Regions from separate parts of the Homo sapiens genome. Here region 1 is reported to be linked to region 2. Evidence: microRNA targets listed by miRTarBase, many of them from high-throughput screens and not tested one by one. Region 2 holds a microRNA gene; the other region holds the end of a gene's coding sequence.

The links. Region 2 holds the annotated microRNA hsa-miR-1225-3p (UGAGCCCCUGUGCCGCCCCCAG, at 1,562-1,583, opposite strand). A microRNA usually pairs through its seed, bases 2 to 8, with sites in the 3' UTR of a target mRNA and lowers its output. Matches are read on the target gene's strand: a 7mer-m8 pairs with bases 2 to 8, a 7mer-A1 pairs with bases 2 to 7 and ends in A, and an 8mer does both.
Region 1: the mRNA of CSRNP3 is a reported target of hsa-miR-1225-3p. Seed matches in the 3' UTR shown: 7mer-A1 at 2,753-2,759.

What each region holds. Positions count from the first base shown.
Region 1 is chr2:165,679,453-165,682,577 of GRCh38, reverse strand. CSRNP3 (cysteine and serine rich nuclear protein 3) reads right to left here. Exons shown (of 7, transcript NM_001172173.2): 7 at 1-3,125. The coding sequence ends at 2,825. Among named protein-coding and RNA genes, the nearest start is that of GALNT3, 110 kb to the left of the region's middle.
Region 2 is chr16:2,088,634-2,091,633 of GRCh38, forward strand. It overlaps MIR1225 (microRNA 1225), which reads right to left and starts at 1,651; the gene lies at 1,562-1,651. It overlaps TSC2 (TSC complex subunit 2), which reads left to right. Exons shown (of 42, transcript NM_000548.5): 42 at 1-858. PKD1 (polycystin 1, transient receptor potential channel interacting) reads right to left here. Exons shown (of 46, transcript NM_001009944.3): 42 at 2,790-2,964; 43 at 2,251-2,541; 44 at 2,041-2,175; 45 at 1,652-1,957; 46 at 75-1,561. The coding sequence ends at 1,094. It overlaps PKD1-AS1 (PKD1 antisense RNA 1), which reads left to right and starts at 2,803. Exons shown (of 3, transcript NR_135175.1): 1 at 2,803-2,981.

The DNA of each region.
Region 1 (3,125 bases), not on the chromosome of region 2:
AAACCACATTTTTTTAGATCATAAAGCCCAACCAGATTCTGGGGTTAGAAAAACTCAATACTGACTATTGGCCATTGCCTGAAATCTGTCATTCTCTAAGTGTGTGATATGTATATATTTTGTATGTGTGTGCATGTGTATGTGTTAGGTATATGGGAGAGTTTTAATAGGTAGCCTGTGTATGTGGTTTGTGGGATATGTTTACAGGTTAGTCAGGTATATGAAAAGTTGGAATAGAAGCTGTCATGATTGGAAGGGTAATTCTTCTCACAGGGCAGTGACTTTCTACCCTAGATAAATGGATAGGGGAAAAAAACTCTGTTTTCTTAAGCATCCTTTTGGAAACAAAGCTAGAAAACAAAGACCTAGCCAAAAATAAAAAAGTAGGCTTCATATCGTCTTAGGAAAATAAAGCTGAACTAAAATTAAAATATCTCTTTTCAGAAACTGGACTGTCATTCTACCCTTCAGCTTTGCTCAGGCTGGAGCTGGCTCTTCCCCACTCTCCCACACTCTGTGTTCCAAGAATAACCTCAGAGTACTTCACAAGCAGATCCTTCAAGAGCTTGTAATGGTCCAGCAAATACAGTACACATGATCCTTTCATGTGCTTGAATGAAGGAACAATAGCCTCTTGTCATTTTCTCTTTGGGCCTGTGCTCTTTAGATTGTATCAGTAGGGGGAAAATTTTGGAGATTAAGCACTAAAAACTGTCACTTTGCAGACAACATGGGATATATATATATACACACACACACACACACACACACACATACATATATGTGTATATATATGTGTATGTGTGTGTGTGTGTGTATATATATATATATATATATATATATATATATATGTATATTTGAGATTTCAACAAATCCTCATTCTGATTAGCCCAAAGGGCCAATCATTCAAAAGGAACAACCCTGCTCTCATTACTGCAACCTACATAAAGACAAACCCAAAGCTCTTTTAATGTTAATATTAAGAGTTATAAATTTGGCCCAATGTAGGGGGGAAGAGAAGGGGCAGAAACCAACTGCACAGTGGAAGAGCTGCCAAGTAAACATTTTTTCCCCAAAACAAAGTTTAGTAGAAACTTTTCCACTGGAGGACTTTCTCTAGATCAAGCATTTTTAAGTTCAATTAAATAAAATATTTTTTTTAGAAATTGAGATCTACAATATATTTATATCCATAATTCTAAACACCCAAGTCTAAAAGACATAAAAAATAAGTAGCGATGCAGTCACTGAATAGCAAGTCATGTCCGCATTTCAAATAGTTATAAAACATGTGAAGTGATATAACAATAGAAGGTCAAAAATATGAAACAGGTTTAGCATAGTCATATTGCATTGGAAAAAAAAAGGCAGAATTACACTATTTAGTTACCTAAATTAATTTACAGGGAAACGGGATCCTAGAAGTCCTCCGACGAACCAAGTGCAGGTAATCTAAAGGTGGGGAGTGCATGTTTTATTTCTATCTGTTCTCTTTAATAAGAGAATGTGAGGTAATTAGAAAGTATGCAATGCATTCTGGACTGTTCTGCTAGTTGTCCCAGGCAAGACAAATCAAAATGCTTCAGAAAAGAAAGGCCTAGTTGAGTATTTGGGTAGAGGCCCCCCTTCAATCAGCTAGTCACTAAGTGGAAATCTCATTATACACTGATTTTGTAGAGATGGATTGATCACGCTGGAGAAAAGGCTGGTTGCTGAGGTCGTGTCTCTTCCATGTTTCCTCAGCCTCCTCTGCATTTACTGAGTTAGGTCCTCAGAGTGGTGAAGGAAAATAGGTCATTTTCCCTTCATAAGTATCATTGGATGATTCCTCTATATTAATTATATGAACCTTATAATAGTTAAAGATCTTTTTAATTTTTTTTTAAATTTTTTCATCTCAAAGAGTTCTCAGTCCCCACCCCACACGAGGTACCGTGAAGGGGCACTAAAGTGCATTTTGATGTAGGGGGTAGAGCTTAAAGGTGCTGTCCAAGCTAAGAATCAAGATGATGCTGTTTAAAAAAGAAAGGCAATTCCTTCTACCTCCATCTCTGGAGTCAGCTGAGGGAGGGCAGTGAACTAGACTCTCCCCAGAGGATTGTCCTAACTCTTAACTTTAGAGAAAACTGTGTAAGGACCTGCACATATAGAATCATTTATTTGTCCAAAATAGCAAAAATAGGCCTATTTCACCCTTAAGAATTTGCAAATCTGATCAGTCATGATCATAAAAATGTGAATGGATTCCAGATGCAATCCATGTGGGCATGCTCTGTGGAACTAGCTATGCATCTTCAGCTTGAATGAACATGCGGCTGTTCATTTTCATCAAAACATGTCTTCTAAACTACCATAAATAAAATACACATGGAACAATTAAATCTTTTTCTTACAATAATTACTTTTACATTAAAAAGTCATCATTATCTTCAGATATATTGAAAATTAGGACTCTAAATCTTATTATTTCCCAGCCTTAGTTAACAATCTTGCACAGGCCCGATAATCCAAAATTTGGAGCTCTGATCTACACAGATTGGCAGGTTTCACACAGTTTGACAGGTAGGCAACTGTGAGATATGCATTTTAAAATTTAGCTTTTTCTATCAAAACAGTCTGAAATCTTTTAAAATCCCTACAGAGACTGTATTTGTGCAATGCCACAGTCATGTGGCTAGAAAGGAAAAAACAAAATACAGTCTGGAAGATTAACCACCGTCCAAGTTTTCTTGGTCTTCAGTTTAAACAATGATGAGCCCAGGAAATCCAATTAAATACAGTGCCTTAAATAAGAGAAGAGTTGGTCCTAGAATAATTTAAGCTACTAAACAGGGACTGTCTCAACCACGGGTGATTTGATGCACTCTTCATGCAATATGCTCTTTTCTGCAAGGCTCAAAGAATTTTCAGCAGGATGCTCTGAAATGTGACTGTCACCATTCAATGCAGAGACAAACCCTTCTTGGGAGGGGCCTTTCAAGTATGAGTGAAATTCCACTTGAGGGTGATTGGACCTGTGTTCAGGATATAAACTATTGCAGGGCACACCGCTATCATTTTCGGAAGAGGAGCAGCAAACGATTACAGAGGGGTTGGCAGCTGGGTAGTGGGAGGCACCATAGGCC
Region 2 (3,000 bases):
TGGCCTTGGACGGTATTGCCTGTCAGTGAAATAAATAAAGTCCTGACCCCAGTGCACAGACATAGAGGCACAGATTGCAGTCAGACAGCTCTTTTATTGACTTTGTCTGCTTGGTGCGGGGGTTGGGGGGGTGTCGAGGCTCTAGAAGCGGCCATGCCCACAGAAGTGGTACACAGAAGCAGGCACAGCCAGCTCCGAGGGCCTTGAGGCTGCCTGGGCCATACAGCACACTCGCGCGTGCGCGCGCGCACACACACACACACACAGTCACCTTCCTCCACCCTGGGAGCCAGCCCCCAGGAGGAGTCTTTTCCTCTAACCACCCTGGGGTCCTCTGACATGCCTAGTCCTGCTACTTGCCCAGACCTGATGCCAGCAGGCCTGGGCGCTGCTCTCTTGCTACCTGGCCTGGGGCAAGGGAGGATGACAAGGCCTCTGGGGTGATGAGAGTGCCTGGCAGACAGCTGTGCCCCCAGCACCGGCCCAAGGCCAAGCTCGCATCCAAGCAGCAGCCGGGCTGCCATAACGCCACCACACCTACCAAGCGCAGCAGGTGTTGGGGGAGGCCAGCTCTGGGCGCAGGCCCCTCAGCCCTAGTGAAAATAGTGACATACAAAAATATACACATTTTAACACCATATAAATTACTGACACGAGACACACAGTGAGACGGTGCAGGGAGTACGGTAGGAACTGGAGAGGTAATAACTTAGGGGCAGGGTGGCGGCGGTGCAGGCTAACCCTCCCTGAAGCCAGCAGCCTTAGCAGTGGGGGACATCTGCCCAGGGGGTGGGGCCGGGCACAGCCCGCTGTACCTGAGGACTCGGGGAAATAAATTAGCATCTCAGAGGCTAGAAACCGTCCAATACTGCTGTGTCCTTCCCAAGGGAGCTGGGGAGGGGACCCTGGGTCCTGGTTGGCCACACAGCCTCTTTAAAGTGCTGAAGCCCACAGACAGACAGATGCCCCTGCCTGCTCTCTGGGGAACCTACGTGCAGCCATTCTGCCTGGCCCTCGGCCTTGACAGCGGCAGAAAGTAATACTGAGCGGTGTCCACTCCGACTCCACGGCCCACCCCCGCCAGGAAGGAGGACTAAGTGCTGCTGGGGTGGACCTTGTTCTTGGCCCGAAGGGGTGTCCTGCTGGGGCCAGTGGCCAGGTCCACACCCCGACTGGCCCGGGCAAGGCGGCTGGGCAGTGCTGGCCGCAGGCCCGGGGATGGGCCACGGGAAGATCCGGCGGGCGCCCGGCTGCTCCTGCGGCCTTGCAGGCTGTGCAGCTGCTGCTCCAGCTGGTAGACGTCCTCTGTGGCCTGGTTGAGTCGGTCAAACTGGGTGAGCAGGGCCTCGAACACGGCTTGGAGGCGGGAGGGCTCAGGCTCACACCTTGTCCCCAGCCGGCCCAGGCTCACGCTCAGCCCATCCAGCTGGCTGGAGGAGGTGGAGGGGTGCGAGGCATCGGAGCCAGCGCTGGGTGGGGGCACATCCGGGGATACCTTGGAGCCCCTGGAGGAGCGAGAGGGCAGCGGCTCCATCCCTTCAAAGCGGACTTTGTGGCGGAACTGGGGGCGGCACAGGGGCTCAGTCAGTCCGGCTGCACCCTGGGCAGAGCCCAGGGCGTGTCCCTCTCCCCCCCACTGGGCCGTACCCACCTCCTTGACCTTGCTGAGGCCCATCCAGAGGCGCAGCCTGCGCAGGAACAACTCCACCATCTCGTAGTCCTGGGGCTCCCAGGCCGGCCGGTACAGCTCTCCACGCAAGGCGTGGTAGCGCCAGCGGAGAATAACAGCCCCCAGCCGTAGGGCGCCCCACAGCCGCAGTGCCCAGAGCCCCACACACAGCAGGGGTGACAGGTGCCAGGACTCGGCAGGACACAGGGTAGAGAGCCCAGTCCCAGGGCACAGCACCAACAGGGCCTGGGCCACGCTCCAGAGGGAGTCCACACAGGAAGACACGAGCTGCGGGGAAGGCGACACCAGTGAGGGCGTACAGCTGAGCTGAGCTGAGCTAAGACGCCCTCCCCGGCCGCGCAGTCACCTACCAGGATGGCCAGCTGGGCGTAGGCTACCCCGAGCACCACCAGGCCCAAGGTGACCCCCAGGAGCTCTGGCAGAGCTCGGCATAATGTCTTGCCAAAGACGGACCACTGGCGCACGAAGCGTAGCTGCTGGGCAGCCTGCGGACGAGAAATCTGTCTGCTTGCAGCCCTGGGGTGTGCGCCCAGCCCCGCGCCCACCGGCCCAGCCCTCACCTTGACCAAAAGCAGGAAGAGCAGCGAGGCCGCCAGGCCACGGGCTGCGGAGCTCAGCTGCGCCACCTGGTCGAAGCTAGTGAAGCGGCGCGGGCGGCCGCGCACGAAACGGGTCCACTGGCGGTCAGCGGCACCCAGCTGGGCGAGGCGTACCAGTGCCGTGGCCGCCGTCAGCGCCACCAGCAGCCACCGCGCCCAGGCTCCGAGCCGCAGCACGCGCCAGCGCCCTTCCCTGTGCCAAGTACGGGCCTCGGCCACGGCGAAGTGCACGGCGAACAGCAGCAGGCACACCTGTGGGGGGCGCGGTCAGGAGGGCGGGAGGGACGCTGCCGGGGCGGGGCCCTGCGAGGGGGCGGGACGCTGCCGGGGCGGGGCCCTACGAGGGGGCGGGACGCTGCCGGGGCGGGGCCCTGCGAGGGGGCGGGACGCTGCGAGGGGGCGGGGCGCTGCGAGGGGTGAGACGCTGCCGGGGCGGGGCCCCGCGAGGGGGCGGGACGCTGCCGGTGGGAGGCGCGGGGTCTGGCCGGGGACGGGCGTACCGAGGTGAGCAGAGGCAGCGAGAGGCCCGCGCTGAGGCGGCGCAGCGCAAAGGGGCGGACGCTGAGGGCGGCCAGGGCGCGGCCGGCCGCCGGGAACTCGAGGCGCAGCGTGACGGCGGCGTGCAGCCCCACGGCCGGGCTGTAGCGCGTGAGCTCCAGGAACACAGCGCGGCTCCTGCGCAGAGGGTGCGGGTCAGTAGGAGCGGGTGGC